2 linked regions of the Homo sapiens genome follow. The protein of the gene in region 1 interacts with the protein of each later gene in a pairwise test. Each region holds a gene or a part of one and is shown on either strand. Other genes may lie near its edges. The genes, in order: MIA3 and SEC24C.

Region 1 (16,626 bases):
GAGGAACGAATTGTGGGAGTAGGGAGAAGATCATTAATTTGGGGCAGATTGACCTTAAATGTTGATGTAGTACCAATTTATTACATGTGACCAGTGTCCCTGTGCTAATGATTTAGTCAGTACATTAAATATTTATTTAAGTAGATAATTTGAGAACTAGAAATATAAATCAGCACGCCTGCATTTTCTGTTTCTCTTTGCAAATGACATATTTGAAGTGATGCCATTTTCTGAGAAGAAAGATGCTTCATGCAGGGAGGAATATTGAGCTATAACATTTTACTGTATTTCCCATCTTGGAAATAAATTAAACTCTCATTGAAATAAAGGTTCTTATTATATTTTTCTTAAATTCTAACCGTATTTTTACATCCTTATTCTTGTTAGCAGATTGCTTTTTGTATTAATCTGTTCTCACACTGCTATAAAGAAATACCCAAGGCCTGGTGTGGTGGCTCATGCCTGTAATCCCAACACTTTGGGAGGCCAAAGCGGAGGATTGCTTGAGCTCAGGAGTTCGAGACCAGCCTGGGCAACATGGAGAAACCCCATCTCTATAAAAAAAATATAAAAGTTAGCTGGGTGTGGTGGCACACACCTGTAGTCCCAGCTACTCAGGAGGCTGAGGCAGGAGGATTGCTTGAGCTTGGGAGGCGGACTTTGCAGTGAGCTGAGATTGCACCACTAAACTCCAGCCTGGACAACAGAGCAAGACCCTGTCTCAAAAAAAGAAATACCTGATACTGGGTAATTTATAAGAAGTTTAATTAGCTCATGTTTCTGCAGGCTATAGGAAGTATAGCGGCATCTGCTTCTGAGGAGGCCTCAGGGAGCTTTTACTCACAGCAGAAGGCAAAGCGAGAGCAGGCCATCTTACATGGTGGGAGCAGGAGCAAGAGAGAGTGAGCGGGGAGGTGCTGCACACTTTTAAAACCAGATTCCACAAGAACTCAGTCACCATCACAGAATAGCACCACAGGGATGGTGATAAACCACTCATGAGAAATCTACCCTTATGATCCAATCACCTTCCACCAGGCCCCACCTGAACACTGGGTACTATAATTTGTTATGAGATTTGATGGAGACACAGAACCAAACCATATCACTTTTTAAAACCATAATAGTTATGCTGAGAAGTTATTTTTTGTCATAGTGCAAGATAACATGTCTTTGCTGCTGATACATTGGGTAATTCAATTTCATTTAGTGATCATAATAACCTTATTATTTTTTTCTTTTTTCAGTCACGGAACAGCAAATTTCTGAGAAGTTGAAGACTATCATGAAAGAAAATACAGAACTTGTACAAAAATTGTCAAATTATGAACAGAAGGTATGATTATTCTTTGTTTTTTTTTTTTTTCATGGTCCCAGCTTGAATTATTTGTCACCTATCTTATAGTTCAGTTACTATGGTATTTTTAAATAGTATTTATTATTACATTAATTCCTATAAACCATCCAGATCTTAAGCAGTCATATGTGTAAAGTACTGTTTTCTTCTGTAAGAGGTCAGTCACTTGAAAATAAGTTCTGGTAGCACTATACTTTATATTTCTGGATTCTGAATGCTTTATTTTATATAGATCAAGGAATCAAAGAAACATGTTCAGGAAACCAGGAAACAAAATATGATTCTCTCTGATGAAGCAATTAAATATAAGGTAAAAACTTCTTTTGGGGATTACATTTTAAAACAAAAGTAAAAGTAATGAGTATAACTAACCTTAATATCTTTTTTGTAGGATAAAATCAAGACACTTGAAAAAAATCAGGAAATTCTGGATGACACAGCTAAAAATCTTCGTGTTATGCTAGAATCTGAGAGAGAACAGAATGTCAAGAATCAGGACTTGGTAAGAGTTTTGCTGCTAAGTATTACTAATAATTTGGGTTTTGAACTCTTTTGTAGATTGAGTTGAACTCTTTATTTTCCATGCTGTTATGTGAAGTAAGAGTGCGAGTCAGGGAAGTTGAACCTACTTCTGTCCATTTTTGTGGAATTTTAAGTACTTACACAAGAAATTATTCTTACAGGCCTAGGAAGTATTTTGGTTCTCAACCCTAGGTAATTGTCATATTGCTTGGCTCTGCCCTCCGAAACATGTGGAACAACTAAGAAACCCAGTTGAACAGTCCTTGTGTTTTGTTTTGTTTTGCAAAGTTTTTTTTTTTTTTTGCTATAAACATTTTATTTTATTAATAGAATAGTTTTAGAATGACCTAAAAGTTGCAAAGATAGTAGAGAGGGTTCCATAAATCCCACACCCTATTAATCTTGATGACCTCGTTGAGGTAGTATTGCCAGGTTTCTTCACTGTAAAATTACTTTTTTTTTTTTTAAACTTTTTGCATTATTGTACTCTTTGGAAGGAAGTTACTATCGCAGCCCACAGTTAAAAAGTGAAGGGTTATGCTCCATCCTCTTGAGGAGCCAGAATCTTCATAAATTATCTAGAATTCTATATGGGTGATCTGTCTATTCTCACTCCAATCCTACCATTTTTAATTTAGGCAAGAGCAATTGGTGTTTGACAAAACAATTGTCAAATTGTACTAAATTAAAGTACCTTGGGGATTATTTTTTTCTCTTGCCACAAGAAAAAAAAAAGTCACATTGATTTGAACTGGTTTACTTAAAAGTTTTTTCAGTTTCTTTTCTTTCACCTTTTAGTCTGGTCATCTACCACATTTTATTCTAACCAGGAAGGTTGTGTATGCTGTGAAATATTTATGCCTTTGATTATTTTCCCTTACCTCTTTAAGTTCTTGATTTTTCCCGAGGGCAAAACTGAAACACCTGCTTTTACCTGAAACATAGGGGATGGCTCTGGGACATACTTTGTTGATGTTTCTTCTTCTTAGTATGTATCCCAGTGTTTCTACTAAAATCCTAATATGCATTTTGTGTTCTGTTTTTACATGGCAGATATCAGAAAACAAGAAATCTATAGAGAAGTTAAAGGATGTTATTTCAATGAATGCCTCAGAATTTTCAGAGGTAAAGCTGACTGTAATTCCTGCAGGATATTAATACTATATCATAGTTTGATTGCAGAGCAAAAATTTGATATATGCTAAAATGTGCAAAAAATGAAAACTACATGATGTTGGGTTGGAAAAGTAACTTTTTCTGGTTTTCTTTGGAATTAATTCACTAATAGGAGTGTTTTGCATTAGGTTCAGATTGCACTTAATGAAGCTAAGCTTAGTGAAGAGAAGGTGAAGTCTGAATGCCATCGGGTTCAAGAAGAAAATGCTAGGCTTAAGAAGAAAAAAGAGCAGGTAAAGGAAAGTGCGTGTCCCAGGTCATGTAAAATAGAGAACTCAGTATCATACCTCATGAATGCCTTTACTCAGATCTATTTTTAGGGTAATATATGTGCAGGATTCTGTTCTTAGATATGCAAAGTTTAAACTATGCTTCCAAAATTGAGTGTAGGTATACATTCTCTATCTGTTCTGGATTTTCTGTTCTGTACAATTTATTTTGGCTATCAGAGTGTGTAGTCTTGTTTTGTCAGACACCAATTGCTATTAACTTGAGTAGCCTCGAGTGGGTAGTAGATTGGCTTTTTAGACCCAAGAGTTAGATATTTTATAACCCTCCTTTGAGTAGTTACTGCTTCACTAGCCAAGGGAAGGTTACATGATCAGGAGTGTGGACTTGGGAGATAGTAGGATGAGCCCTTCTGTTCCTTCTGGAAGTGAATTATTTGAATTGGCTACAATTTTCTGAAGGATGCAATAAACAAGATCAATTTCCTTGATAGCTCTGATGTTCTCACTACAGCTCTGAGGGTTGGGGCCACTGTCTCCTCCCACTTAACCAAGGTCTTAGCCCATAGTGATAGGCCAAGGAGAGGCATGGTTCCTTATTTACCTGTCTCATTCATGTGGTCCTAATGTCTCCAGTGCAAAAGCCCTAACCTGTGGGAATCATGTGTTTTAACTTTGCAGTTGCAGCAGGAAATCGAAGACTGGAGTAAATTACATGCTGAGCTCAGTGAGCAAATCAAATCATTTGAGAAGTCTCAGAAAGATTTGGAAGTAGCTCTTACTCACAAGGATGATAATATTAATGTAAGTGCGTTCATGAATACAAGCTTAATTCTTGTGAATTATCAAATCTGTTGAATTAAATGGAAAGACTCTTAATGCCCTTTTACTTCTTTTCTAGGCTTTGACTAACTGCATTACACAGTTGAATCTGTTAGAGTGTGAATCTGAATCTGAGGGTCAAAATAAAGGTGGAAATGATTCAGATGAATTAGCAAATGGAGAAGTGGGAGGTAAGATCAGCCTCAAGGAGGATGGACCCCTTTTGCCTTCCTGTCTTTAAGTGCACCAGTGCTACTTTTCAGCTGGCTGCATTTCCTCTTAAGCTTTCGAGGTGTAAATACATTGGATTTGAATGTGTGTCTGTTTGCATTGGGCAGAGGTGGATTGCTAGGGTGAGGTGTAGCAGTAAGCATGCAGTGAACACTGACTTTGTTTTCACATTGAGACTAGAAGGGTGCACGGGAGCTGCACTGGTCATGTCTTACACCTCTAAGTATTGGACACATACAGTAGTAGAAACTTGTTTTTCAATTTCATGGAGATAACATTTTAAAACTTGTCATCTCAGTAGCTGTGTGGTTTTAAGGCCCACAACTGGTTTTAAGAGTACTGAGGTGGTTGGAGGCATAAACTGACTAAGGCCATGAAAGAAAACCACAACTGGTTTTGAGAGTACTGAGGTGGTTGGATCCATAAACTAAGGCCATGAGAGTGGAGGCTATAGTGTTGCAGTGTTTACTGATGAGGAAAATGTTTCTAGATGCCCTCTCTCAAGTTGGATATTGCTTGTGTAGTGGGTGTTTTAAACCACACCTGGTAGTAGATTCTGGAGGAGAATAGGAGGGAATCTTTCTGAATAAGACACTAAGCCCAGATGGAAGAAAGAGCTTTATCTCACATGTTTCTTCTTGCTCAATAATGGCATGTATAACATGTTTATTGTACAAATGGGAATTCACTTTTTCAGTCTTAAGTTTGCAGTTCTCTTAAAAGTCAGTCTAATCCTTTTCTGTTTTTGTTTGTTCTTTAAATGTTTGAACATGACAATTGTTTAGTTTTGGGTAAATCAAGAAAATATAGATTTAAAAAGCAAGGGAAGAAAAAGCAATGAAAGAAAGCCTTTTGTTTTTTAGGTGACCGGAATGAGAAGATGAAAAATCAAATTAAGCAGATGATGGATGTCTCTCGGGTATAATCGTTTTTAGAGTCCCATAATTGCCTGTGAATACTTTTACTATGCCTCACTTTTATGAATACTTGTCTCTTCTGCAATTTTTAGACACAGACTGCAATATCGGTAGTTGAAGAGGATCTAAAGCTTTTACAGCTTAAGCTAAGAGCCTCCGTGTCCACTAAATGTAACCTGGAAGGTAGGTTGCTTCTTGAGAAGAAATTGCTATATATTGGAAAGATACAAAATTGCATTAGAAAGATAAAGAGCGGCTTCCTGCTTTCATACTTCTCATTTCTCTCAGCACCAGCCCCCAACCAAGTTCTCAAGTTCTTGTGCACACATATGGAACTCAAATGTTTTATCCTTTACAGACCAGGTAAAGAAATTGGAAGATGACCGCAACTCACTACAAGCTGCCAAAGCTGGACTGGAAGATGAATGCAAAACCTTGAGGCAGAAAGTGGAGATTCTGAATGAGCTCTATCAGCAGAAGGAGATGGCTTTGCAAAAGTAAGATTATCATCATTTACTGTTAACTGTATTGTCATGTCAGTAAATAAATGTGTACTAATATAGATAATGTTATCGTTTTTCAGGATTGTACTCTTTTGCATCTGTAATTAGTATAAATTTGTCTTTCTTTCTTTCTGCTTTGTTTCTCATAAGCTGCATTTTTCTTTCCTTTCTAACCAGTAGTCAAAAACTGTTGCCTGTAACTCACTTAAGGGGGAGCAGTGTACTGGTACTGACGGTCGCTGCTGTGGGAGTGCTTCTCTTTTGAAGATCTGGCCATGCCTTGTCTGTGGCTCCGCCACTTGTTTCACTTTCCTTTCTTTGTGGTCAATTATGTAATTTCCTTTAAACAGTCTGAGGGATTTGTATGACGTGTTTTAGTAGAATAAAAACTTCAAAAAAGGAAAATTTACTTATTGAAGGTACATTTAGTTTTGGACTTCACAGAGTAAAATATTCAAACTAAACATAATTGTGGCAAAGATATTAGGAGTTTTGAATGTAGAACTATTTGGTGTGTATATTTAGATAATAATCCTCTGAAATACATATCTCAAATTTCGAGCGAGGTACCTTTTGAGAGGTATATTTTTATAGTTCAAGTTTTTTGTCCACAAAAACATCTGAATTCTCTAAAAATAGGTTATCTGTGGCAGTTGCTATTTGTGTTTGCTCTTATGTTTTACTCTTTGGTGTATATGGCAGTGTGTGAGGAGGCCTCTCTTGCTAAGCAAATTTAACTTTTTTAAATGCTTAGACTGCTACTGCTGTATGCCATTAAATATTGAAACCATACCATTAACTTTTTCTCTAATTCTTTGCTCACCAGGCAGCCAGTTTAGATTTTCCAGGTTTTGTTCAGGCCAGCTCTAAATAAATGCCTGTCCTGCTTCAGAGAGACATTCCTCATTTCATTACTTTTTAAAAAAGAGCACTTCTCTGCCTCCAATAGTAATGTGAATTACGTAAATGGCAACTGTTTTTCTTCGTGATACAGTTAACCCATTGATGTGGCAGTGTTTTATTCAACTTCCCCAAAATTCATTCAGTCTCCATGTGTGGTTTGTACTCTACTGTCCACCCCTAAAGTCACTGTGTTAATTCAGGCCCTTGTCATCTTTTATGCCAGTCCCCTAGCTAATCACGTATCTCCAGACTTTCTTTCCCTTTTTTTTTTTTTTTTTTTTTTTTGAGACAGAGTCTCACTCTGCCGCCCAGGCTGGAGTGCAGTGGCGTGGTCTCAGCTTACTGCAAGCTCCGCCTCCCAGGTTCATGCCATTCTCCTGCCTCAGTCTCCCGAGTAGCTGGGACTACAGGCGCCCGCCACCATGCCCGGCTAATTTTTTTTGTATTTTTAGTAGAGATGGGGTTTCACCTGTGTTAGCCAGGATGGTCTCAATCTCCTGACCTCGTGATCCACCCGCCTCGGCCTCCCAAAGTGCTGGGATTACAGGTGTGAGCCACCGCGCCCGGCCAAAGAATATACTTTAATGCAGGTTCAGTGAGTTTACTTTTGTATGAAAATGTCTTTAGTTTGACTCCATTTTAAAAGGATCTTTCTGCTGGTTCTGGAATTTCGATAGTTGTTTAGTATCAGCACTTTAAAGATAACCAGTTATCCTCTAGTTTTAAAGTTTCTTTGAGGAATCTATTATCATTCTTATTTTCTCTTTTCTCTTTTTTCAAATGTTTTATGCCTGCCCTAGCTGCCTTTCGTCATTTTCTTTTTGGTTTTTCAGCAGTTTTCTTGGGAGGTGCCTACATGTAGGGTTTTGTCATCACCCTTCCACCCTACCCTCCTGCTTTTTCTTTTGCATTTATACTGCTTGAGGTTATAAACATCTCTTGAGTTTGGAGCCTCTTTTTTCACATATTAATTCTATCTTATTCTCACTTGTCCTGAGAATCCAATTCAACATACTAGGATCTCCCACCCCTACCCCTCGCCCAATGCCTCCTACATTCTGAATATGCTTCATTCTGGATGTTTTCTTCTGACCTATCTTCCAATGTGCTAAAAATCTCACCTCAGTTGTCTAATCTGCTAAAATCATTGAGTTCTTTTTGGTTTCACTATTTTTCACTTTTATAGTTTCTAATCCTCTGCTGAAATGTGTAATCTTGACTTGTACTTCCTTCAATTTGTAAGGCACAATTGCTTTAAAATCTATGTGGTAATCCTATTATGTGGATCCCTTATGAGTGTGTTTCTCTGGTCTTCTAGATTGTGATTACATTGTCTTGTCTTGTGGAATGTCTGGTTGGTTTTGATGGAGTGGTGAACATTGTTTTTGAAAATTGTAGGGGAAATTTGAGGTCTAAGATGATGTTATCATCCTACATAAAAGATATGAGATTACCTCTAGCAGGTGGTCATTACTTTATTCCAGTTAGCAATTAAAATCATTCAAAAATGGCTTAGTTCCTTTAAAGGACATTGTATTTATTGCCTGTTCAATACTCCAAGTGTGCAGCTCTTTTCTGGTCTCAACCCAAAGCCTAGGGCTTTTACTAGGGGTCCTTCTCATTGGCAGCCCTGAACTCCCTCCGCTTCTTGTTTCTCTCAACCCAGGGATCTGTTGAAAGTTCTTTTCAACCTTCTTACATATCTGCATTGTCTTCAATGCATGGATGAACCTGGGGGGAAATGGCTTAAAATGCCGGGCTTACTTATAATTCTGTGTTTTTTCCTACTGGATTTTCTTCACTGCCTTATTAGCTTTCTGATGCCTTCGAGCACATTCTTTCTATTTTTGTCCATATGTTCTTATTTTCAGTGTTTGCAGACTAACTCATCCATTATTGGAAACAAAATTCTCTTGAATCCTTCTTCAAGACTTGTTTTTTCCACATCCCTTCCTAAGCCAGAGTCAGAGAGGGATTGTTCTGTTCTTATATGCACCTTTTACACATTCAGCTGTGAGCTCCATTAGTGCAGAGGTGGTACTTACCATAGCCATACCTTTATCTTAGTCTCTTACAAGGTAATTAGTATAACCACTCATAAAATATTTGCTGAAGTATTTATTGAATGAGCAGTTGTAAAAGAATACATAAACTTTTTTCTCTTTGGTGTTAATAACCCTTTTTACTATAGCTCCTCTATTTTTGTTTCCAATTTATAGAAAATTTGCAAGTATCTTTTGCATCAGAACTATGAGTAAAGAAGTACAAGGGTAACTACAAGTAGCACTTTTAAACCATTAAATGTTGCTGCCTTTACAATCTGTGTTATAGTTGGCTAACCTCTTGAGCTTGAAGGTTATCAGGTTAAAACCAATTTCCAGTACATAGCACCCTGATTACAGGACAGTTTGGATTCTTTTTCTGTTCAACAGACATTGCCAGTACTCGGATTTGTCTCGCTGCTTTATCATGATTCCATTGAAATAGGTAGGGGAGCTCCATATCTGAAGTGTGAAAATGTTCTGGGGTTAATTGTACAGTTAAGGACATGTTCTAAAAAGCTCTTTCATTGGCTGTCTTTATCATGGTACCAGCCTTGGATTGAGAAACAGCCCATAAGAAAATTAATTAGTGGTCTTTCCATGGTTAGAAATAAGAGAATTATCTCCTGCATCATCCTAATAAGCTTAACTGTGTTAGGTTGATCAGTCCTGGCTTTCTACATTGAAGAAAAGTGAGCATCATTTCAACCCAACAGTCTTTGACACATAGTGTTTTTTCACATTTGTTTCATTTACTAGTGAGGAGAGAATTATGAGACGTTAGAAAATGCAGGTGATGTATCAACAGGCCACAGTTGGATTTTTATCCTAAAGGACAGTTTTATTTCCTTCCTGTGACTTTGTATAATCTATGCATTTTTAAGAATAGGATAGGAAGTGAGATTTTATTGGAGTATTCAGACAGAATGCCAGGAGGAAAAGAGAAACACTTTCATTGACAACCAGTTTTATCTTAGGAAACTGAGTCAAGAAGAGTATGAACGGCAAGAAAGAGAGCACAGGCTGTCAGCTGCAGATGAAAAGGCAGTTTCGGCTGCAGAGGAAGTAAAAACTTACAAGTAAGTTCACCTCCTAAAGAGGGTATCAGTGGCTAATGAAACTAGTGTTGGCTTTTTTTATTAGCACAAAAGCATAAATAAGTGGTTAGAGGACATGAATACATCAATTCACACAAAAGAAAAACTAAATTTTAAGTTAACAAATGGAAAAATATTAACAAATACCCAGTGCTGGCAAAACTGTAAGGGAACTTGATTCGTGCAAACAGTTCTGGGGGTTGGAGGGGGTGGGAGCAGTTTGTTATATGATGTATCAAAAGCCATTAAAGTGATTTTGCCATTTGATAGACCCAGTAGTCCTAACTTTGGGAAAATTTTTATGATGTAATTAAAGGATGAAAAAAGGTTTATAGTGGAAGATATTAATAATAGGATTATTTGAGAACATATTTAGGAACAGTTAAAGGAATTGTAATATATCAACTCAATCTCCAGCTGTTAAAGGAAATTATGTATCATTAGTTTTCATCATATTGTACTTTTGTTATAACCAACCATGTAAAATATGCTTTATATTTCTGGATAAGCTCTATTAGGGTACAGTTGTTAGGGTAACGGTTAACATAGTCAGATTGTTTGGGTTTTTATTCAGTTGTGCTTTAAATGATAAAGCCAAGTGTAATTCTTAGGCGGAGAATTGAAGAAATGGAGGATGAATTACAGAAGACAGAGCGGTCATTTAAAAACCAGGTAATAATTCTAGTGCCCTACTATATAGTGCCCGGAATTCTTTGATAACTAATAGAGGCTATTATAATGAATCTGTATGCATATTTTGTGATGTATTATCTTTTTCAGATCGCTACCCATGAGAAGAAAGCTCATGAAAACTGGGTAAGATTTCTTTTTTTCTTTCCCTTATTTTGTGCATAGTCTCCCACAACTGAATTTGGATATTTTTCTTCAATAGCTCAAAGCTCGTGCTGCAGAAAGAGCTATAGCTGAAGAGAAAAGGGAAGCTGCCAATTTGAGACACAAGTATGTGGATTTTGATGGCTATATTTTCAGCGCGTGTTCTCTTAAGGAATTGGTTTCTATTTCATATTTAACTCTTTCTTAAATATTCTTTCTCTATATTCAAGATTATTAGAATTAACACAAAAGATGGCAATGCTGCAAGAAGAACCTGTGATTGTAAAACCAATGCCAGGAAAACCAAATACACAAAACCCTCCACGGAGAGGTAAGGGAGCTACCTTGTAAAGGGCAACAATCTGTTTTTTGATGTAAAATGTATATAAGTGACTTTTTGTTTCTGTGTGTAATGGTTATGGTACCCTAGGAATAATCCCAAGAACTGAATAAAGAAAAAAAGGCTGTCTTAAAATGCTAACAAGATGCTGTCATCTTTAGGTCCTCTGAGCCAGAATGGCTCTTTTGGCCCATCCCCTGTGAGTGGTGGAGAATGCTCCCCTCCATTGACAGTGGAGCCACCCGTGAGACCTCTCTCTGCTACTCTCAATCGAAGAGATATGCCTAGAAGTGAATTTGGTGAGCATTCACATGTTTCCTTGCAATACTCTTTTGGGTGGCTTTTTCCCTTTTATTTGAGAATTCTAATGCAAACACTTTAGAATTCGGGTCTGTCCAGTATAGAAAAGAAAATTTCTTAATTTGTCTTGGTGGATTCAACTGCAAGTATTCAACTGCAAGATTTGCTTTAGAACAGAAGGCATTTATTATTTTCCTTTATTGTTTTGTTTCTCTTTAATTTTTTACTCTGAAGTGTAAGCCCTTATCTTTCAATTAAAGTTCTGTGGGATTCCTCTCCCAAATACAGCTGACCCTTGAACAACACAAGTTTGGTCTGTGCAGGTCCACTTCTATGCAGATTTTTTTCAAAAAATATTTTGGGAAATTTTTTGGAGCTTTGCAATAATTTGAAAGAACTTGCAGATGAACCACATAGCCTAGAAATATAAAAAAATTAAGAAAAATTTATGTATGTCGTGAATGCATAAAATATATGTAGATACTAGTTTGTGTTATAAACTATTGGAAAATATACAAAGATCTATTTTAAAAAGTTAAAATTTATCAAAACTTGCACAAGCACAGATGTACATGACACCATTCACAATTGGGAAAAAGTAAACACATGTAAAGATGCAGTTTTAAATCATAAATGCATAAGATTAGCTGTAGTACATACTGTAGTACTACAATAATTTCATAACCACCTCCTGTTGCTATTGCAGTGAGCTCAAGTGTTGTGAGTATCCGCTTAAAACACCGTGTGATGTTAATCTGCATGTGGGCAGTTCATCTCTCCAGTAAATTGTGTATCACAGTAAACATAATCTCTCATGGTTCTTGTGTATTTTTCATGTTTAGTGCAATAACATAAACCTTGAATAACACCATGGGACCCATATAAAATGCCACTAGTGATGCTGGAAGTATTCTCAAGAAGCAAAGTCATGACACTACTAGAAAAAGTTGAATTGCTTTGATATATACCATAGTTTGGAGTGTGCAGCAGCAGTCATTTCAGTCAGACGATTCATCTTGTAAACAGACCATGTACACGTACAGTACAAATACAATACAGTGTTATAAATACATTTCCTCTTCCTTATGATTTCAATAACATTTTCTTTAGCTTACTTTATTAAAGAATACAGTATACAATATATATACAGAATATGTGTTAACTGTTTATGTTATTGGTAAGGCTTCTGGTCAATAGTAGGCTATTTACTAGTAGGTAGGTTTTGGGGAGTCAAAAGTTACACGTGGATTTTTGACTGCGCAGGGGATCAGCACACCTAACCCCTGCATTGTTCGAGTCAACTGTATTATAAAAGTAGCCTTAATAACTTTATCGTTTATGCGGCATACATGTTTCCACTTGTCATTACTATATAGTATGAAACGCTGTTGAGTCTATTTTGAATCCTAAATATGTCTATAATACTCAGTAAGATACGGAAGTCAGATTACATATACACTGAACAAAAATCACCATGTAGAATACTGTACATGTAAGTCTGTAGCTTGAAGTATAGAACCAGAGCCATTAATGTGCAGGGTTTATTGTTCTTTCAGTGCAAGGCAGTTCTTATTTTAATTCTTTAAGTCCGTGCATAAATTGTAAGTGATTTCCCTTCATAAATATTGGGAGACCCATTTTTAATGTTGCTTTCCAGATAAGACTTGAACCCTGATCTGTCCACAATTTATTATTTCTTCCAAAAAATACATATAAGGACTCTGTTATTTCTTTCTCAAGGATCAGTGGACGGGCCTCTACCTCATCCTCGATGGTCAGCTGAGGCATCTGGGAAACCCTCTCCTTCTGGTAAGGGAGCAAGAGTGTTCAAAGAGTCTAAAACCATGCAGGAAGTGGGGAGAGGATTTTTTTTTTAATCCTCCTCACAGAGTACACAAGTCAGAATAAGTCTACATCAGTTCTCTGGTCTTTAACAGATCCAGGATCTGGTACAGCTACCATGATGAACAGCAGCTCAAGAGGCTCTTCCCCTACCAGGGTACTCGATGAAGGCAAGGTAAATGCACCCATTTTGAATAATTAGTTATTTCAGGAACATTTAGCTCTTCCTACAACTCTCTCTTTGCCTCATCTCCTATTTGTGTGTTCTATCTGTACTATCTCATTTATTTTTTAAAAAAGCAAACTGTTCTCCAAGAGCCTGAAGTCCCCTCAGTTCCCAGCATTACATCTTTGGCTGAGCGTCCAGTAGCAGTAAGTACTTAGAAGTGTGGACTGAACTGGGCTATAAGTTGCATGGCAATATTGATCTTACTTTTATCCTTGACTTGGGAGTGTTGCTGAAATCTGACGGATTCATTGGCCTTTTCTCCTCTCTCCTGTTTGGTTAGACATTTAACCTGTGTAGAGCATCTGCTGTAACTGTAATTAACTTAAACAAAAGTGAAAAGTCCCCACTCTTGTGTGTCTCAGTGTTTAATGCTCTTAGGCAAAGTAAATTCATTGTAAATTGTGTAATTCATTATTATGTCTTCATTTGGAAGTGTGCTATTTAAGAATACCTACAGTTGTATACTAGGCAAACCCTATTTTGAATGATCTGAAATTACAGATTGATAACAGAAGAATGTTTGCTGGAAGTGAAATACTGAATAGTGGAAGTCTATAATTACCCGTTGAGCCAGTTCCCAGCAGTGTCCTTAAACAGTGTCCACATAAGTGTATTCTCTTGTAACTTGTATAGCTGTTATGGCTGGTAAGTCCTCTGATCATACCTCACTGTGATTCTCGACATTGAAATTAAAATAATTTTAATGATTGAGAGTTTCCAACCCACTTTCCCATAGGAAGTGATTAATCAGTATCTCATAGTAGACAGTATTACTAGTGAATGAAGATGAATAGAGCTGTGCCTGTATAATTTGTGTACATAACATTGTTTCTCTTGGAAAATACTTCCAAGTTCCAGCACAGGACTCCAGGAATACACATTTCTTGAGAAATGTTTTTATCCAAGAGCAGCTTGGATAAGACCCGAGACCCCTTTGAAGTAGGAGACTTCGAAGAGTGTAGAGACTACTTTGTTAGAAAGGAGAAGCAGAGGTGGAAAGAACGTGGCCTTGGAGTCAAACCTGGCATGGAATTCCAGCCAGCCTCTTACATGCTGTGTGACCATCAGCAAATCTAATACTCTCTGCGCCTGTGTTCCTGCATATTTAGAACAAGATGGTCCTATTACAGATTTAGAGATGTCAGAATTTGTGTTAATATATGTAGGGCCTACAGAAGGTACTCTGAATAATCGCTGTTACATGGTAGAGAATGGATTTTTCATTCCCTTTCATTCTCTGCATTCTTAATATGGAAATTACTCTGATAGGAGGGATGTGCAGAGGGAGTGACTGCCTTAGAAATAGATGTATGAATGGCGTAACTTCTATCATTAGTCAGGAATGACCTCCATTTATAACCTGTGCGTTCCCTTCCATTTGCAGATGTAAGCAATAATATGATACAGCAAGTGTTCACTCCTGTGGCATACTTTTAACCTTTCTAAGCTTGTCAGTGGGAACAAATGAGAGGGGTAGAGTTTTTTGCACTAATTCTGCTCTTTGGACAAGTGCCTGACATCTGCTTCATTGGGTTTTAGTTTTTACTGGTGTTGGTGCTTTTGTCTGTCATACCATAGTATTTCAAAACTTCAATTGTTTCTACTCTGCAGGTTAATATGGCTCCAAAAGGGCCCCCTCCTTTCCCAGGAGTCCCTCTCATGAGCACCCCCATGGGAGGCCCTGTACCACCACCCATTCGATATGGACCACCACCTCAGCTCTGCGGACCTTTTGGGCCTCGGCCACTTCCTCCACCCTTTGGTAAGATGATCTGAACAGTAGTAATTGACTTGTAAAGCACATTCATCTTCTCCATCTATCCCTTGCTAAAACAACTGCAATTGCGGGGCTTTGCAATGCAGCAGTGAAGCTGATTGAGTACACCGTAACTTTTCCCCAAGTTTCTTCAGACACAAAGGGTGCTACATAATCTCCTGTGATTAGATGGGCAATAGTTGTCTCTAATAGAACAAGGAAAGGGGCTATTTATAAAAAGCCAGAAATATTCATCACATTGAACATCTGTGGCTGTGTACTAGGCTCTGCAATGGATAGCAAGGTAGATAAAATACATCCCCTAACTAAGATGTCCTGTAGGTCACAAATATACACATTCTACAACATAAAGCTTCTAATCACCCATAATGGAAGCATAAGCAGTAGGTCACAGAATATTAAGGAAAGACAAAACCCTCAACCCTCACCTTGGGAATACAAAGAAGGGAGATATGAAAGAGAAGGTAGAATTTAACAGCTATCTAATGAATGCTGCTGAATTTAATTAGATGGAGCTGGAAAGCCTTTTCCAGCAGGGCAAGCACCTTAATTTTTATGGCATTTATTAGGTACATCTTGAGCTACTGCATAAATTTTTAACTGATACACAGTAGTTAATGGAATTTATCAAAATTTTTATTGCAATGAAGCCATATTTAGTCTGTCTTCTTGGTATGGTATATAGTACTTCCAAGTACAAATCTATCTCTCTTTTTCAGATAAAGATGGCAGGCCAGGCACAGTGGCTCACGCCTGTAATCCCAGCACTTTATGAATCCCAGCATTCATTAGACGAGGCTGAGGCAGGTGGATCCCTTGAGCCTAGGAGTTTGAGACCAGCCTGGGCAACATGGTGAAACCCCCATCTCTACAAAAAATCCAAAAATTAGCTGGGAGTGGTGGCGTGCACCTGTAGTCCCAGCTACTGGGGAGTCTGAGGTGGGAGGATTGATTGAGTCCGGGAGATTGAGGCTGCAGTGAGCCATGATCACTCATTACACTCCAGCCCATGTGACAGGCAAGACCCTGCCGCCAAAAAAAAAAAAAAAAAAAAAAAAGGATGACAGACTATATTAACATACCTGGCATTATCTTAATTTAAATACGTTCCTAGGAATTTACTGGAAATAATTTTTGTTTTCCAGGCCCTGGTATGCGTCCACCACTAGGCTTAAGAGAATTTGCACCAGGCGTTCCACCAGGAAGACGGGACCTGCCTCTCCACCCTCGGGGATTTTTACCTGGACACGCACCATTTAGACCTTTAGGTTCACTTGGCCCAAGAGAGTACTTTATTCCTGGTACCCGATTACCACCCCCAACCCATGGTCCCCAGGAATACCCACCACCACCTGCTGTAAGAGACTTACTGCCGTCAGGCTCTAGAGATGAGCCTCCACCTGCCTCTCAGAGCACTAGCCAGGACTGTTCACAGGCTTTAAAACAGAGCCCATAAAACTATGACCTCTGAGGTTTCATTGGAAAGAAAGTGTACTGTGCATTATCC
Region 2 (16,626 bases), on another chromosome or scaffold:
CAGCTTAAAGGTTAGAAGCAAGATGGAGTCGGTTAAGTCTGATTTCTTCCACTATCATAATTTCCTCAGTTGTAATTTTGCAAAGGCAGTTTCAACAGCAGTGCTCGAAAAATTATGAAATCAACAAATAGTACTGAAAAGTTCAAATGAAGTCATATATGAAAAAGAAATCCTAGCACTGTTAGCTATAATTACTTAGCCATTAAATGGGGTACTAATAATTACTGCAGGAACTATCTTTTCCAACAGAGCGCAGAGATCTTTTGGCTCTGATAAAGCTCTGCACCTAAACAAAGGCGCTGTATAAAAATGGTTAATAACAATTGACCTTTACTGAGTGCTTACTATGATGCCAAGCGGCCTATGTGGCCTAATTTCATCCTCTGGGCATTATTATTTCCATTTTACAAGCTGTAGAGCCAGACCTCAGACCCCCACATGCAGGTTGACAACAGTTGGTGCCCTTTACCACCACCACACGTTCCGCAAATCTCATAACCAGCAAACGCCATGGGTGAGAGCAACCTAGCGGACGGAAATCAACGGGGTCAGGGGTCACCAGGAAGTGACTACAAGACTCTAGCTCAGAGGTCACTAATACGTCACAGGCAGAGTGAAGGGGCATTATTAAAGATAGTTTGACAAATTCTTTTTAATCTCATTTCTGTTGGTGAGGCCATAAAGTGACTGGAACATCTGAAAAAAAATGTCAGGAGGGAAATACATACGACTCAGCAGAGGCGCACAGGCGGCGGCCATGATGGGAAGATGAAAGAGGCGCATGCGCGGCATCCGGGTCCCCGAAATGCAGACGTGGCAGAAGAAGTGGCCCGGCCCTAAAGCGTGGAGGAGGAACTTCCGGGGGTGACGGGACGGCCCCCTCGGAACCGGAAGTGGAGCCTGGGAGCCTTGACGTTAGGAACGAAGTCTAACCTGGATCTGGAGCCGGGTGAGGAGTGGCATCGGGAGGTTGGCGGGTAGGAAAGCAAAGGAGAGGTCAGGGTATTACTGGCCAGATTGGGGTCCGGTTTCAGAAAGAAGGGAGGAGCCTGGGGGCGGGGCCTGGGTAGAGACCCTCACCTCACGCATCCACCATCCAGGAGCAGGTCCTAGACCATCCCTTCGTCTCCCGGCCCAGATTCCGGCTCCTGCTTCCTGCCCCGAGCCTGTTAAAAGGTGCAAGACGTTTGGTCTCTGTGCTTAACAGAGCAGCCCCCTCTCTTAACGTGGCCCTAGAAGCCGACTTGGCTTCTCGGTTTTGATCCTCGGCTCTCCGAGGCTCCATGGCTTGACTACTTTCAGAGTTCTAGGAAGCTTGCCCCGCCCCCTTGGGTTGTCACCCTCGACTATCCACCCAGAATGGAGTCGAGACTTCAGTCTGACTCCAAGCTCTTGAATGTGTTTGAGGGGATTATTTTCTGGAGAAGAAGCTCCTTTCTTTACCCCTCCCCCCGGCTTTGGAAACATAAAGGGAGAGGACATATTTTAAACTTAGTGTCAGTGACCTACCTCTGTAAGGTTTAGGGTTTGGAAGAACAGCTATTGAGATAACTTTGAGTTTAAAGAGTTTTAGACCAGGATCAGCTCCTTTTCTATAGTCAAGGTGGCCCTTCTAGCAAAGGGGGAGAGGTCCATTGTTCCCTTTGCAGCAACTCTGAGTGCTCCTGCTTTCTGGGCCCCTTCTGTCTACAGGATAATTGGAATGATACAGCTGTTGAAAGTAGATGTGATGAGATAGTTTTCTTGGAAGGACCCTGTTTAGAAAAGGCCCTCTAATTCATCCCTGTGTTGATGAGCAAGATTGTAATAATTTTGATGGTGGCTGAGATTCATAACAATCGTAAGGGGAGCAGAAACAGGAGAGTTGGAGAAGTGCATTGGAATTTAGAATATTCATAGTCTTCTGCTTGAGGGATGAGGTGAATGATTTTTTTCCATGAAATCTAACTCTAACTTTGCCCCTGATTCTTGAACTGTTTCCTCAGATTATGTGAAGAAGTTTTGGTGCCTGTTCTGCACTTGGTTTTAATCTGTTACCTTGCTAGAGTTTTCAGGTGTCCTTTATTTTTTATTTTTTTGAAAGGGCGTCTTGCTCTATTGCTCAGGCTGGAGTGCAGTGGCACGATCTCGGCTTATTGCAATCTCCGCCTCCCGGGTTCAAGCGATTTCTCCTGCCTCAGCCTCCCAAGTAGCTGGGATTACAGGCGTGTGCCACCATGCCCGGCTAGTTTTTGTATTTTTAGTAGAGACTGGGTTTCACCGTGTTGGCCAGGCTGGTCATGAACTCCTGACCTCAAGTGATCTGCCCGACTTGGCCTTCCAAAGTGCTGGGATTACAGGCATGAGCCACTGTGCCTGGCCAACTTTTATTGATTTTAATGCTTCGGTTTTGGCCGGGCGTGGTGGCTCACACCTGTGATCCCAGCACTTTGGGAGGCCAAGGTGGGTGGATCACGAGGTCAGGAGATCGAGACCAGCCTGGCTAACAGGGTGAAAACCTGTCTCTACTAAAAATACAAAAACTAGCTGGGTGTGGTGGCACGCGCCTGTAATCCCAGCTACTCGGGAGGCTGAGGCAGGAGAATCGTTTGAACCCAGGAGGTGAAGGTTGCAGTGAGCCGAGATCGCGCCACTGCACTCCAGCCTGGCAACAGAGTGAGACTCCGTCTCAAAAAAAAAAAAAAAAAAAAAAAACCTTCAGTTTTAAGGTCCATACACTCTTTTGGTGGAAAGACTTGGGTTGGAGTATCATTTGTATTATGGCAGTTTAGCTAAAGAATGTCATTTCTGTAACTCAGCCTAAATTTTGTCATTGAGGGGGAAGGATTTTAGCAGATCTGTTTTAGATTTTTAGCCTGATTGATTTTAAATCAATTGTTCAGCACACTAGAGGGTACTCGATGTTTGCTGAATGAATGGATGCTAGAGTGAATGAATGGAAAGTGGGAACATTGTTTCTTTCACCTGTAACATCAAGGTAGTTCATCAGCCACAAGACTGTGTGACTAGACACTAGAAATCATACCACTGGGGAATGGAGGCTGCTGCTCCATTTCAGTGGATCTGTCTGAAGTTGAAATTTATACTATTTAGACAGTGACAAAGGGTGGATGGTCAGAATAACAAAATCCTTGCTTTTAGGAGATAATCTGAATGCTGGCTGGGGCAGAAAATTACTAAGATCCTGTGGAAGTGTGAGGATTATTAAACTGATCACTGTCTGATAAGGTCAATTTCTTTTTATCTCTACTTCCTGCCCTGAATAGTTGCTCTCTTTAGAAAGTTCATTTTGACTAATTTCTCCTCTCTCTCACAGGTGAGATCAAATTGGGAATGCTTTCATAATGAACGTCAACCAGTCAGTTCCACCTGTGCCACCATTTGGGCAGCCCCAGCCCATCTACCCAGGGTATCATCAGTCCAGCTATGGTGGGCAATCAGGGTCCACAGCCCCCGCCATTCCCTATGGAGCCTACAATGGCCCAGTACCAGGCTATCAGCAAACACCTCCCCAAGGTATGTTTCTGTTTCTGTTTCCTTTGAGCTAGGGAGGGAAATCAGCAGAGTCTTCAGGTTGGGTTGTATTGCTCTAGCTAAGCTACCTGAGAAGTTTGGATAACTGGGATTGAGGAACATAAATCTGGCCCTGTGTAGCTGAGAGCCCCGTGGGCGCCCTTCCCTTCCCTTTTTTTATTATTATTTTAATTTTTTTTTGAGACAGTTTTGCTCTGTCACTCATGCTGGATTACAGTGGCATGATCTCAACTCATTGCAACCTCTGCCTCCTGGGCTTAAGCACTTCTCCTGCCTCAGCCTCCCCAGTAGCTGGGATTACAGGCATGCACCACCACGTCCAGCTAATTTTTGTATTTTTTTAATTTATTTTGAGATAGAGTCTCTCTCTGTCGCCCAGGCTGGAGTGCAGTGGCACCCTCTTGGCTGCAACCTCCACCTTCCAGGTTCAAGCAGTTCTCTGCCTCAGCCTCCTGAGTAGCTAGGATTACAGGCATCCACCACCACACCAGCTAATTTTTTTGTCTTTTTAGTAGAGATGGGGGTTTCACCATCTTGGCCAGGCTGGTCTTGAACTCCTGACCTTGTGATCTGCCCGCCTCAGCCTCCCAAAGTGCTGGGATTATAGGCGTGAGCTACCGTGCCTGGCCTGTATTTTTTTTTTTTTTTTTTTTTGAGACAGAGTTTTACTCTTGTTGCCCAGGCTGTAGTGCAGTGGCACGATCTCGGCTCACCACAACCTCCATCTCCTGGGTTCAAGTGATTCTCCTGCCTCAGCCTCCCGAATAACTGGGATTACAGGCATGCACCACCATACCCTGCTAATTTTGTATCTTTAGTAGAGATGGGGTTTCTCCATGTTGGTCAGGCTGGTCTTGAACTCCCAACCTCAAGTGATCCACCCACCTCGGACTCCCAAAATGCTGAGATTACAGGCGTGAGCCACCACACCTGGCCACTGTTTGTATTTTTAGTAGAGATGGGGTTTTACCAGTGGCCAGGAAGGTCTTGAAGAACTGCTGACCTCAAATGATCCACCAGCCTTGGCCTCCCAAAATGCTGGGATTACAGGCTTCAGCCACCACGCCCGGCCCCTTCCCTGTTTTTTTATTTTATTTTACTTATTTTATTATTTATTTATTTATTTATTTTTTGAGACAGTCTCGCTCTGTTGCCCAGGCTGGAGTGCAGTGGCACAATCTCGGCTCACTGCAACCTCCGCCTCCCAGATTCAAGCAATTCTCCTGCCTCAGCCTCCAGAGTAGCTGTGATTACAGGCTCCCGCCACCATGCCCGGCATTTTTTGTATTTTTAGTAGAGACAGTGTTACACCATGTTGGCCAGGCTGGTCTCGAACTCCTGACCTCAAATGATTCACCCATCTCGGCTTCCCAAAGTGCTGACATTACAGGCATGAGCCACCACCTCTGGCCTTATTTTTAATATTTTTTGAGATGGAATTTTGCTCTTGTTACCCAGGCTGGAGTGCAATGGCACAATCTCAGCTTACTGTAACCTCCGCCTCCCAGGTTCAAGTGATTCTCCTGCCTCAGCCTCCCAAGTAGCTGGGATTACAGGCATGTGCCACCACACCCGGCTAATGTTTTGTATTTTTATTAGAGATGGGGTTTCACCATGTTGGCCAGGCTGGTCTCAAACTCCTGGCCTCAGGTGATCCACCCGCCTCAGCCTCCCAAATGCTGGGATTACAGGTGTGAGCCACCGTACCTGGCCTTATTTTTTTTCTTTTTTATTTTTGAGCTGGAGTTTGGCTCTTGTTACCCAGGCTGGAGTGCAATGGCACAATCTCAGCTCACTGCAACCTCTGCCTCCCAGGTTCAAGTGATTCTCGTGCCTCAGCCTCCTGAGTAGCTGGGATACAGGCACCCACCACCACACCTGGCTAATTTTTTGTATTTTTAGTAGAGATGGGATTTTGCCATGTTGGCCAGGCTGGTCTCGAACTCCTGACCTCAGGTGATCCACTTGCCTCGGCCTCTCAAAGTGCTAGGATTACAAACGTAAGCCACCACGCCCAGCTGTCTTCCCTGTTTTTAGATAAGGTACTGTGTTTCTGCCTTAAGCCATCTAGTGGGAACACATCTCCCAGGTTCACTGACTGTTCACTTCCTGTGGGTATCACCTTGTGCAGCCTTACCTGGTCACATTGTTCAGAGCTAAATGGAAGGGTTGTGGTCCACACCCCTCTAGATCCTGTGACCAGGACCGAATATTTCCTGTTGACTTGTAGTCTCCTTGAAATAATTTATTCGTCATATATGTTGAGAAAGCCTCTTGTTGGACTGATGATTCTTATGTATGAATGACCCTGGGACAGTGTAGTTTATGGGGGTGAAAAGTGTGATATTTGTGTGCCTGACTTTTGGTGCGTCTCATGTCTTCTGATATCCATCCTTTTCCTTTGCTTGAGTTTCCTCTGCTTCTTAGATGCTCTGTAATGTCATGGTAATAAGATAATACTAATCTGATGCTGTTCTAGGTTCAGTGTTTGGCTTTTAACCTTACCTTTTCTTTTTCTTTTTTTTTTTTTTTCTTTTTGGAGACAGAGTCTTACTCTGTCACCCAGGCTGGAGTGCAGTGGCACGATCTTGGCTCATTGTAACCTCTGTCTCCCGGGTTCAAGCAGTTCTCCTGTCTCAGCCTCCCGAATAGCTGGGATTACAGGCACATGCCACCACGCCCGGCTAATTTTTATATTTTTAGTAGAGACAGGGTTTCACCATGTTGGCCAGGCTGGTCTCGAACTCCTGACTTCGTGATCCACCTGCCTTGGCCTCCCAAAGTGCTGGGATTACAGGCGTGAGCCACCACGTCCAGCCTTACCTTACTTTCTCAAGAAGAGCAGCTAGTACTCTACCGATTCTCCAGAGGGGCTTTTTGGAAATAGTTAACAGTAGATCTTTGCTTAGGCTAGCCGATGATTTAGGGTATGCCAAACTCTATGCTTTCATAAAGAGATATGGAAAAAAGAAGGCATCAAGGAGGTACTGGTAAGATTTGGGAAATAATGAAGTATGATGATTTTAACTGTGGGGAAAAAATATTGTGATGAGATTAGGCCCCAGGTCTTTGGAAGAACCTTAATTCTAAGCTGAGACTTTGGCTGGACAGAGTCCACCTCTGCTTTGTCAAGTGCTCGAGTTTGGCATTCTCTCATGAGAAAGCTTTGTTAGAGGAAAACATATCTGATTCTGTCATGGTTGGTGAGCAAGTTTAGGCTAATCATGTTCCTGTAGGCAGGTTCTATAATGTCTAATCTCTACTGAGGGCAGAGCAAAAGAAAAGCATTCTTTGAACAGAGGTCATCCACATTTCAAAAGTGATGTGCCAAGTAACTAATTGCTTTCTCCCTGAACTTCATATGTGAAGAATGGCTAAGGGTAGTGTAAGTAGCTTTGGTGGTGGTTCTAAGGAATAGGAAGGATGGAGTACAGCTTTTGTGAGGACATAGGTGGCAATGCTGATGGGAGGACAGGCCAGCTGTCCTTACTGAACTGTTGGGCAGAAACAAGGTCTCCGATCTATAGGAACACGTTCCTGAATCGTGCTGTTTCATGTTTTCACACTTAGAAGTGGATGAAAGGATATAGTTAGTGTAAGCAGAATGAATGAAGAAGAAGGTGGCAGAATAATCTCCCCAAGAGATGCCTTTCTTTGCAGCCTAGTTCCGTATATTACTTGGTCATCTTCTGAGTCTCCTTTTTCATATATGCTCCAAGTTTCTGAGTTCTGGAGTAAGATCTTTTCCTTAAAAGGGTTGGCTTGTTGTCTAGGGTAAGAATATCAGGCAGTCTTGGATTGACTGAGAGTATGGTGATCAAAGGAAGGCCCTACATTCTTGTGCCTCTGGCTACAGCTTCACCCCTAGTATGCTTGTCTAGGGGAGTGTAGGCCCCTTGTTGGGAATCTGTGTTTAGAATACTGCTGTAGCTACAGTTGTATGCTGGTAGTGTCCTTTTCACTGCCTAAACTGTGGTATTGGGCCAGTGAAGGTCTGAGTTTATTGATCCTTGCTTTGCATTCCTGGCTCAGGGTGGAGGAGAAAGTTATTTCCCAATCACTTAGTTTCTGTCCTTTACCCTCAGGTATGTCAAGAGCCCCACCTTCCTCGGGGGCACCTCCAGCCTCAACAGCACAGGCTCCTTGTGGCCAGGCTGCATATGGCCAGTTTGGCCAAGGAGATGTACAGAATGGGCCAAGCTCCACTGTTCAGATGCAAAGGTAGGTACTTGGTCAATCTAAAATTGGTCTGATGAGGCTGAGTGCAGTGGCTCATGCCTGTAATCCCAGCACTTTGGGAGGCTGAGGTGGGTGGATCACCTGAGGTCAGGAGTTTGAGACCAGCCTGGCCAACATGGCAAAACCCCATCTCTTTTCTCAAATAAAAAATTAGCCAGGTGTGGTGGTGTGCACTTGAAATCCCAGACTTGGGAGGCTGAGGCAGAAGAATCATGAGGCAGAGGTTGCCGTGAGCCGAGATCGTGCCATTGCACTCCAGCCTGGGCGATAGAGTGAGACTCCGTCTCATAAATAAATAAATAAATAAATAAATAAAATTGATCTGATGAAAGTAGAAAGGTTAGGAATGTATGGGGGTTTGTGTTTTGTTTTGTTTTTTTTCTCTCCTTTGCCTTTCTTGTAGATCACTTTTTCTCTTCCCTCTACCCTTTTGTACTTTGTCTTCTTTTTTCCAGGTTACAGGTACTGCTGACGTCCAGCCCTGTGGATTATTGACCCATCTTAGTACCTGGGTTCCTTTGCATATTCTTCATTTTCTGTGAACTTGAGTTTCTTGCTTTACTAGACATACATCTTCAATAATGGTTGCAGTCCTGTTGAGACTACCCTAAGGGAGAAATGGGAAGAGGAAACTTCAGGATTATTTGCATCTCTTTTGACTTGCCCCTTTCCTCTAGAACAGGCACTTAGTAGGACTGATTGGTTAAGTTTGGGCATGGCCAGTTATGAACTGAAAGATACTAAAAGGGAAACCACATAAATGGTGAAAACTTCAGTGGTACAGTGACCCAATAAACCCATCTTAGCATGAAAGTCCATTAAAGGAGGGCAGTCATCTCTATTAGAGTGCTTTTTAAAATTTTTTAATTTTTTTTTTTGAGACAGGGTCTCACTCCGTGGCCCAAGCTAGAGTGCAGTGGCAGGATCACAACTCCCTGGAGCCTGGATGTCTCAGGCTCAGGTGACCCTCCCACCTCAGTTTCCCAGGTAGCTGGGACTACAGGCATGCGCCACCACACCCAGCTAATTTTTTGTATTTTTAGTAGAGATGGGGTTTCGCTGTGTTGCCCAGGCTGATCTCAAAACTCCTGAGCTCAAGCAATCTGCCCACCTTGGCCTCCCAAAGTGCTAGGATTACAGGAGTGAGCCACTGCACCTGGTCAGGAGTGTTGTTTGTGTTTGGTAAATAAAGAGTAAAATATAACTGTGGGAAAGGGGTATGATAATAGAAAAGTCACTTTCTGACACTTTAACTGGGTGTCCAGAACACACATTTTAAGCATTGAATGTAAGCCTGGGTAAGTCAAACAAGTGGGGTACATAGAAGATAACAAGTACACAAATGTACATAAAGTTATAAAACAGGGTGAGGATATAGTGAGGGGGTAGGGAGCTGTTTTAAATACATTGGTCCGTGCTGGGTGCAGTGGCTGACTCCTTTAATACCAGCACTTGGGGAGGCTGAGGTGGGAGGATTGCTTGAGCTCACAAGTTGAAGGCTGCAGTGAGCCATGATTGTACTGCTGCACTCCAGTCTAGGTGACAAAGCAAGACCCTGTCACAAAAAAACAAAACAAAACAAAAAACCCATACGAAACAAGCATATGCCTTAGTAAATTATTATATAGCAAACTCCTTTGTAACTACAACTACGACCCAGATGAAGAAATAGAACTTTGCCACTCACCCCAAAAGCCTTTTCCATGTGCCCCAATTCAAACATTATTCTCTCCCTCCCCTCATAAATAACAACTATCCTGCATTATCCTGACTCTTACAGTAATTACTTTCTTTTTCTTTTTTTTTGAGACAGAGTCCTGCCCTGTTGCCCATGCTAGAATGCAGTGGTGTGATCTCGGTTCACTACACTCTCCAGCTCCTGGGTTCAGGCGATTCTCCAGCCTCAGCCTCCCGAGTAGCTGGGATTGCAGGCGCCTGCCATCAGGCATGGCTAATTTTTTTATATTTTTAGTAGAGACAGGGTTTCGCCATGTTGGACAGGCTGGTCTCGAACTCCTGACCTCAAGTGATCCACCCGCCTCAGCCTTCCAAAGTGCTGGGATTACAGGTGTGAGCCACCACGCCCAGCTGACTTTCTTGTGGTTTTTTAAAAATAGTTTACACTTGGCTGGGTGAGGTGGCTCATGCCTATAATCCCAGCACTTTGGGAGGCCAAGGTGAGAAGATTGCTTCAGCCCAGATTTTTGAGACCAGCCTGTGCAATATAGGGAGACCCCAATCTCTACAAAAAATAAAATGTTAGCTGGGCATGGTGGCAAGCTTGTTGTCCTAGCTACTTTGGGAGGCTGAAGTGGAGGTATCGTTTGGGCCCAAAAGGTCGAGGCTACACTGAGTGTGATCTCGCCACTGCACTCCAGAGCTTGAGAAACAGCGAGACTGTGTCTCACAAAGAAAAAGTTTACACTCAAATGTACAACCCCACGTACCACAATTTAGTTTTACCCACAGGAAAAACACTTGGTGTGTCTTAAGTCTATAAGCTCCACCTCTGTCTTCTTTTTCTTAGTATTTATCTGTTGAAGAAAACAGTTAACCCAAAGAATTTCCCACAGTTTGGACTCTTTACATAACATTTACATCACACTTGTCCAACTTGTGGCCCACAGTCTGCGTGCCCCAGGACGGCTTTGAATGTGGTCCAACACAAATTCATAAACTTCCTTAAAACATTATGAGGTTTTTTTTTTTAAGTTCATTACCTGTCATTAGTGTAGTGTTAGTGTATTTTATGTGTGGCCCAAGACACTTCTTCCAGTATAGCCCAGGGAAGCCAAAAGATTGGACACCCCTGATTTACATTGTATTAGGTATTATAAGTAATCTAGAGATGATTTAAAGTACATGGGAGGAGGCTGGGTGTGGTGGCTTATACCTGTAATTCCAGCACTTTGGGAGGCCAAGGTGGGTGGATCACCTGAGGTAAGGAGTTTGAGACCAGCCTGGCTAACATGGTGAAACCCCATCTCTACTAAAAATACAAAAATTAGCTGGGTGTGGTGGCGGGCACCTATAATCTCAGCTACTTGGGAGGCTGAGGCAGGAGAATCGCTTGAACCCAGGAGGCAGAGGTTGCAGTGAGCCAAGATTGTGCCACTGCACTCCATCCTGGGCGACAGAGTGAGACTTCGTCTCAGGAAAAAAAAAGTATATGGGAGGTTATATGCAAATATGATGCCGTATAACCCACATCCAATTCTATTGATTCCACCTTCAAGATGTATCCCAAATCTCACTACAGTCATTCCTCAGTATCCATGGGGGAATGGTTCCAGGACCTCCCCTGACCAACAGATACCAAAATCCACAAAGGCTCAAGTCCCTCATATAAACTCTATTCAAGTAGAGATGTTAGGTAGGCAGGTGCATATACAAATCTGCAGCTCAAGACTGATGCTAGGACTGGAGATAAAAATTTGGGAGTCCTCAGTCTATAGATATTTAAAGCCGTGGGACTAGATGAAATCATTTAAAAAGTGAGTATTGAGATTAAAGAATGGAATTGAGGACTGAGACTTGGAGCTTAGCAACATTTAAAAGTAAAGAGGAGCCGCCATTAAAAGACAATGAGGGGCCAGGTGCAGTGCCTCACTCCTGTAATCCCAGCACTTTGGGAGGCTGAGGCAGGCAGATTGCTTGAGCTCAGGAGTTCGAGACAAGCCTGGGCAACATGGTGAAACCCTGTCTCTACCAAAATACTAAAATTAGCCGGGTGTGGTGGCACATGCCTGTGGTCCCAGCTTCTTGGGAGGCTGAGGTGGGAGGATGGCTTGAAACCAAGAGGCGGAGGTTGCAGTGAGCCGAAATCGCACCGCTGCACTCCAACCTGAATGACAGAGTAAGACCCCATCTCAAACAAACAAAAAAAAAACAAAAGACAATGAGAAAGAGCAGTAGTGAGGTGGGAGATAAGCCGGGAGAGTGTGGTGTCCTGAAGTCAGGTGAAGAGAGTATTTCAAGAAGGTGAGAGAGTAATCAGTTGTGTCAGATGCTGCCAAATTGTAAGATGAAGATGGAGAATTGACCATTGAATTTGGCAAGGTTGGCGTCATTGGTAAAGGCAGTTTCAGTGTAGAGATAAAGAAAACTACCCAGTTGGAGTGAGTCAGAGTTTCAGGCCAGGCGCGGTGGCTCATGCCTGTAATTCCAGCACTTTGGGAGGCCGAGGCGGGTGGATTACAAGGTCAGGAGATCGAGACCATCCTGGCTAACACGGTGAAACCCCGTCTCTACTAAAAATACAAAAAATTAGCTGGGCGCGGTGGCAGGCTCCTATAGTCACAGCTACTTGGGGGGCTGAGGCAGGAGAATGGCGTGAACCCAGGAGGCAGAGCTTGCAGTGAGCCGAGATCTTGCCACTGCACTCCAGCCTGGGCGACAGACAGCGAGACTCCGTCTCAGGAAAAAAAAAAAGTTTCAACCGGGTGGTAGATTGACATAATCTGAAAACCCTCTGCTACCAAAGTCTAGAAAGGAGAGAGAAAATAGAAACAAAAAAAATTTTTAAGTGCAAAGTTAAGCTTGAAAGAAAATGTGAAATTCTTAAGTTTTAGAGACCAAGTGAGGACTGAAAATCTTTTTTTTTTTTTAAATACAGAGTCTTGCTCTGTCGCCCAGGCTGGAGTGCAGTGGCACGATCTCTGCTCACTGCAACCTCTACCTCCCAGGTTCAAGCGATTCCCCTGCCTCAGCCTCCCAAGTAGCTGGGACTACAGATGTGGGCCACCATGCCCGGCTAATTTTTGTATTTTTAGTAGAGATGAGGTTTCACCGTGTTGGCCAGGCTGGTCTCAAACTCCTCGCCTCAGGTGAACCGCCCACCTTGGCCTCCCAAAGTGGTGGGATTACAGGCATGGGCCACTGTGCCTGGCCATCAAGTGAGGACTGAAAATCAGAGTGGTAAATTGACTCTGGAGCTGCCTGTAGATTGGGTGGATTCATCATCTTGAGAAGCCAGGGCCTTAAATTTAAGCAGGTACTGGGGAAGGCAGATGAGTCCTTGGGCTTTCCTGAGAGTAGTTTTGGAACTGAGACATTGTTTATAAAGTCTGGACCTGGGCTGCACCTTCATTGAACAAGCTGACTAGGGGAAAAAAGTCTGCACGCTGGAAAGGGGAGATAAGGAGTGCTGTTTCTCTCAGGCTGGCTGTGGATGGGTGAAAAAAAAAGTTCTTGGGACTGCAAATGGACATGACATCTTTTTGGAATGATGAAAATGTTTTAAAATTTGATTCTGGTGATGGTTGCATAACTAAATTTACTAAAAATCATTGAATTGTTCACTTGAAGTGAATTTAATGGTATGGAAATTACATCTCAGTAATATTTTTTTTTTTTTGAGACAGAGTTTTGGTCTTATTGCCCAGGTTGGAGTGCAATAGCACGATCTCAGCTCACTGCAGCCTCTGCCTCCTGGGTTCAAGTGATTCTCCTGCCTCAGCCTCCCAAGTAGCTGGGATTCCAGGCATGACCACCATGCCAGGCTAATTTTTTGTATTTTTAGTAGAGACAGGGTTTCACCATGTTGGCCAGGCTGGTCTTGAACTGACCTCAAGTGATTCACCTGTGTTGGCCTCCCAAAGTTCTGGGATTACAGGTGTGAGTCACTGTTCCTGGCCAATTTTTTTTTTTTTTTTTTTTTTTTTTTTTGAGATGAAGTCTCGCTCTGTCACCCAGGCTGGAGTGAAGTGGTGTGACCTTGGCTCACTGCAACCTCCACCTCCCAGGTTCAAGTGAATCTCCTGTCTGAACCTCTTGAGTAGCTGGGATTACAGGTGTGCACTACCACGCCTGGGCTAATTTTTGTATTTTTTTAGTAGAGATGGAGTTTCACCATGTTGGTCAGGCTGGTCTTGAACTCCTGACCTCAAATGATCCATCTGTCTCGGCCTCCCAAAGTACTGGGATTACAGGCATGAGCCACTGCACCTGGCCTAATTTTTTTTTTTTTTAAATTAGAGGCCAGGTGCAGTGGCTCATGCCTGTAGTAATCTCAACACCTTGGGAGGCTGAGACAGGAGGATCACTTGAGGCCAGAAGTTTTAGACCAGCCTGGGCAACATAGGGAGATCCTGTCGCTATAAAAAAAAAAAAATAGCTGAGCATTGTTGGTGTGCCTGGGAAGCAGAGGTGGAGGCAGGAGGATTGCTAGAGCCCTGGAGGTTGAGGCTACAGTGAGCCATGATGGCTTCGCTGCACTGTGGCCTGGGTGCCAGAGTGAGACCCTGTCTCAAAAACTAAAAAAAAAAAAAAATCAATCTAGGGTGACACTGTCATTATTGGAGTACCTTCTGGAAACAAATGTAGAACAACCACACCTCAGTCCGGGCTGGAAGGGATTATCGGAGAAAGGCACTTTGATTAGAGTTGGGCCAGGCACAGTGCTCATGTTTGTAATCCCAGCACTTTGTGAAGCCGGGGTAGGAGTTCAAGACTATCCTGGGCAGCATAGCAAGACCCTGTCTCTACAAAAAATAAAAAAAATTAGCTAGGTGTGGTGGTGTGTGCCTGTGGTCTCAGATACTTGGGAGGGGAGGCTTAGGGGGAGGATTGCTTGAGCCCAGGAGGTCAAGGCTGCAGTGAGCCACAGATAGTGAGTGCCATTGTACTCCAGCCTGGGTGACAGAGCGAGACCCTGTCTCAAAAAAAAAAAAAAAAAAAAAAAAAAAACGTAAGGCTGGGCACGGTGGCTCACGCCTGTAATCCCAGCACTTTGGGAGGTTGAGGCGGGCGAATCACGAGGTCAGGAGTTCCGAGACCAGCCCGGCCAACATAGTGAAACCCCGTCTCTACTAAAAATACAAAAATTAGCCAGGCATGATGGTGGGCACCTGTAGTCCCAGCTACTCGGGAGGCTAAGGCAGGAGAATTGCTTGAACCCAGGAGGTGGAGGTTGTGATGGGCCAAGATCGCACCACTGCACTCCAGCCTGGGCGACAGAGTGAGACTCTGTCTCAAAAGAAAAGAAAAGAAAAAAAAAAGTAGAGACAGAGTATAGACCTATTCTTTTGTAATGTTTAGCTAAAAGGGGAGCAAAAGTTTGAGGGGGCTGTGAGGTAATTTGGTTGGATTTTTAAAAAGTTTTTTGAGATATAATTCATATACTGTGCAATTCGTCTGTTTAAAGTGTTTTTGTATATTTAGTGGTTTTTAATATATTGACAGATATGTGCTGTCACAATTTAGTATATTGACAGATATCACTACAGTCAGTTTTAGAACATTTTCATCATCTGAAGAAGAAATACTGCATTCTTTAACTACCCCTGTTTAGCTATTCCCCCATTCCCCTATTCTTCCAACCTTAAGCAACTCCTGATCTACTTTCTGTCTCTAAAGATTTCCCTATTCTGGACTTTTCATTAGAATAGAATCATATACTATGTGATATTTTATAACTGACTTCTTTAATTTAGCATAATATTTTCAAAGTTCAACTATGTTGTAGTGTATATTAGTACTCCATTCCTTTTTGTGGTTAAGTGGTTTTTCATTGTGTAGCTACATGCCACATTTTGTTTATCCATTCTTCTGCTGATAGACATTTGGGATGTTTCCACTATAGTTGGTTTTTGTGTGTGTGTGTGTGTGTGTGAGATGTTTGTATGTTTTTGTGCTGATGGGAATAATCAGAGAGGGAGACACTGAATGGAAAGTATATTGGAAAGACACTGTGGTAGACTGAGGCGGGCAGATTCGTTGAGCTCAGGAGTTTGAGACCAGCCTAGGCAACATGGCGAGACTCCGTATCTATAAAAAATGCGAAAACTAGCCACGCATGGTGGCGTGTGACTTTCGTTTCAGCTACTTGAGAGGCTGAGGTGGGAAGATCAGCTGAGCCTGGAAAGTTGAGGCTGCAATGAGCTGTGATCACACCACTGCACTTCAGCCTGGGTGGCAGAGTGAGACCCTGTCTCAAAAAAAAAAAAAAGCTGGACAATCAATCTGCATTTGTTTGATTTCATATTTATTAAGGTTCATGCATGCTTATGCGTGCCTTCCCTTTCAGTGCTTTCAGGGCTTCAGATTACAAAACTGAAGAGGTTTGTCAAAGAATTGAAGCAGAGGAAGCAGTAATTTAGTTAGCAGAGTAAATAGTACTTGACCTGAAGGTGCTTGGTTTATGTTTGTGGAGTGAGCTTAATGGAAAACAAGATTTGCCATGAATAATCAGGAATATAATTTACCCACAAATATACAAAAGTATGAAGCCATAAAAGAACTCAGGGTGTGAGAGTAAGATGTCACAAAACAATGTAGCTTCCTGTATGATGTGACACTTCTGTAGACTTCAAAGGGTGTCCTGGCCCCACTAGTCACCTCTGCTTGCTTTCTTTTCACAGGCTGCCTGGGTCTCAGCCATTTGGGTCCCCATTGGCCCCTGTGGGCAACCAGCCACCTGTGCTTCAGCCCTATGGCCCTCCCCCGACAAGTGCACAGGTGGCTACGCAGCTGTCTGGAATGCAGATCAGCGGTGCTGTGGCCCCAGCCCCTCCTTCTTCAGGGCTGGGCTTTGGTGAGTGGCTGTGAACACAGGAATGTTACTGTCCCCTGTTCAGAGGCATCAGACTCTGGGGTTATACCTGAATCTCTTTTATTTCCCTTGTATTTCCTGTGCCTCTGAGCCTCAGAAGATGGGACAGTCATATTTGCCCCTCTTGTGTGGAAAGGGAAGTGATATACCGAACAAGGAGGCAGAATGACTGGGCTTTTGACTCTACCTTTATTCTACTTCTCAGGCCCACCAACATCGCTGGCTTCAGCCTCAGGAAGTTTCCCTAACTCTGGTCTGTATGGCTCCTATCCTCAGGGCCAGGCTCCTCCCCTTAGCCAGGC

Evidence for each region.
Region 2: the proteins of MIA3 (region 1) and SEC24C interact in a two-hybrid assay, tested with the Homo sapiens proteins (one study listed by BioGRID).

The regions. Positions count from the first base shown.
Region 1 is NC_000001.11:222,649,045-222,665,670, forward strand, and holds part of MIA3 (transport and Golgi organization protein 1 homolog isoform 1 precursor), read left to right. Parts: intron 1-1,247; coding exon 1,248-1,336; intron 1,337-1,589; coding exon 1,590-1,667; intron 1,668-1,748; coding exon 1,749-1,859; intron 1,860-2,932; coding exon 2,933-3,004; intron 3,005-3,183; coding exon 3,184-3,288; intron 3,289-3,963; coding exon 3,964-4,086; intron 4,087-4,183; coding exon 4,184-4,295; intron 4,296-5,198; coding exon 5,199-5,254; intron 5,255-5,344; coding exon 5,345-5,435; intron 5,436-5,610; coding exon 5,611-5,749; intron 5,750-8,877; coding exon of another isoform or gene 8,878-8,932; exon of another isoform or gene 8,933-9,677; coding exon 9,678-9,779; intron 9,780-10,408; coding exon 10,409-10,469; intron 10,470-10,577; coding exon 10,578-10,613; intron 10,614-10,689; coding exon 10,690-10,757; intron 10,758-10,861; coding exon 10,862-10,962; intron 10,963-11,132; coding exon 11,133-11,270; intron 11,271-13,011; coding exon 13,012-13,080; intron 13,081-13,208; coding exon 13,209-13,288; intron 13,289-13,413; coding exon of another isoform or gene 13,414-13,485; and 5 more.
Region 2 is NC_000010.11:73,743,489-73,760,114, forward strand, and holds the start of SEC24C (protein transport protein Sec24C), read left to right. Parts: upstream 1-883; 5' UTR 884-949; exon of another isoform or gene 950-977; intron 978-1,692; exon of another isoform or gene 1,693-1,919; intron 1,920-3,141; exon of another isoform or gene 3,142-3,228; intron 3,229-3,316; 5' UTR 3,317-3,344; coding exon 3,345-3,516; intron 3,517-7,619; coding exon 7,620-7,755; intron 7,756-8,228; coding exon of another isoform or gene 8,229-8,235; intron 8,236-16,133; coding exon 16,134-16,306; intron 16,307-16,529; coding exon 16,530-16,626. UniProt on the Homo sapiens protein: Component of the coat protein complex II (COPII) which promotes the formation of transport vesicles from the endoplasmic reticulum (ER).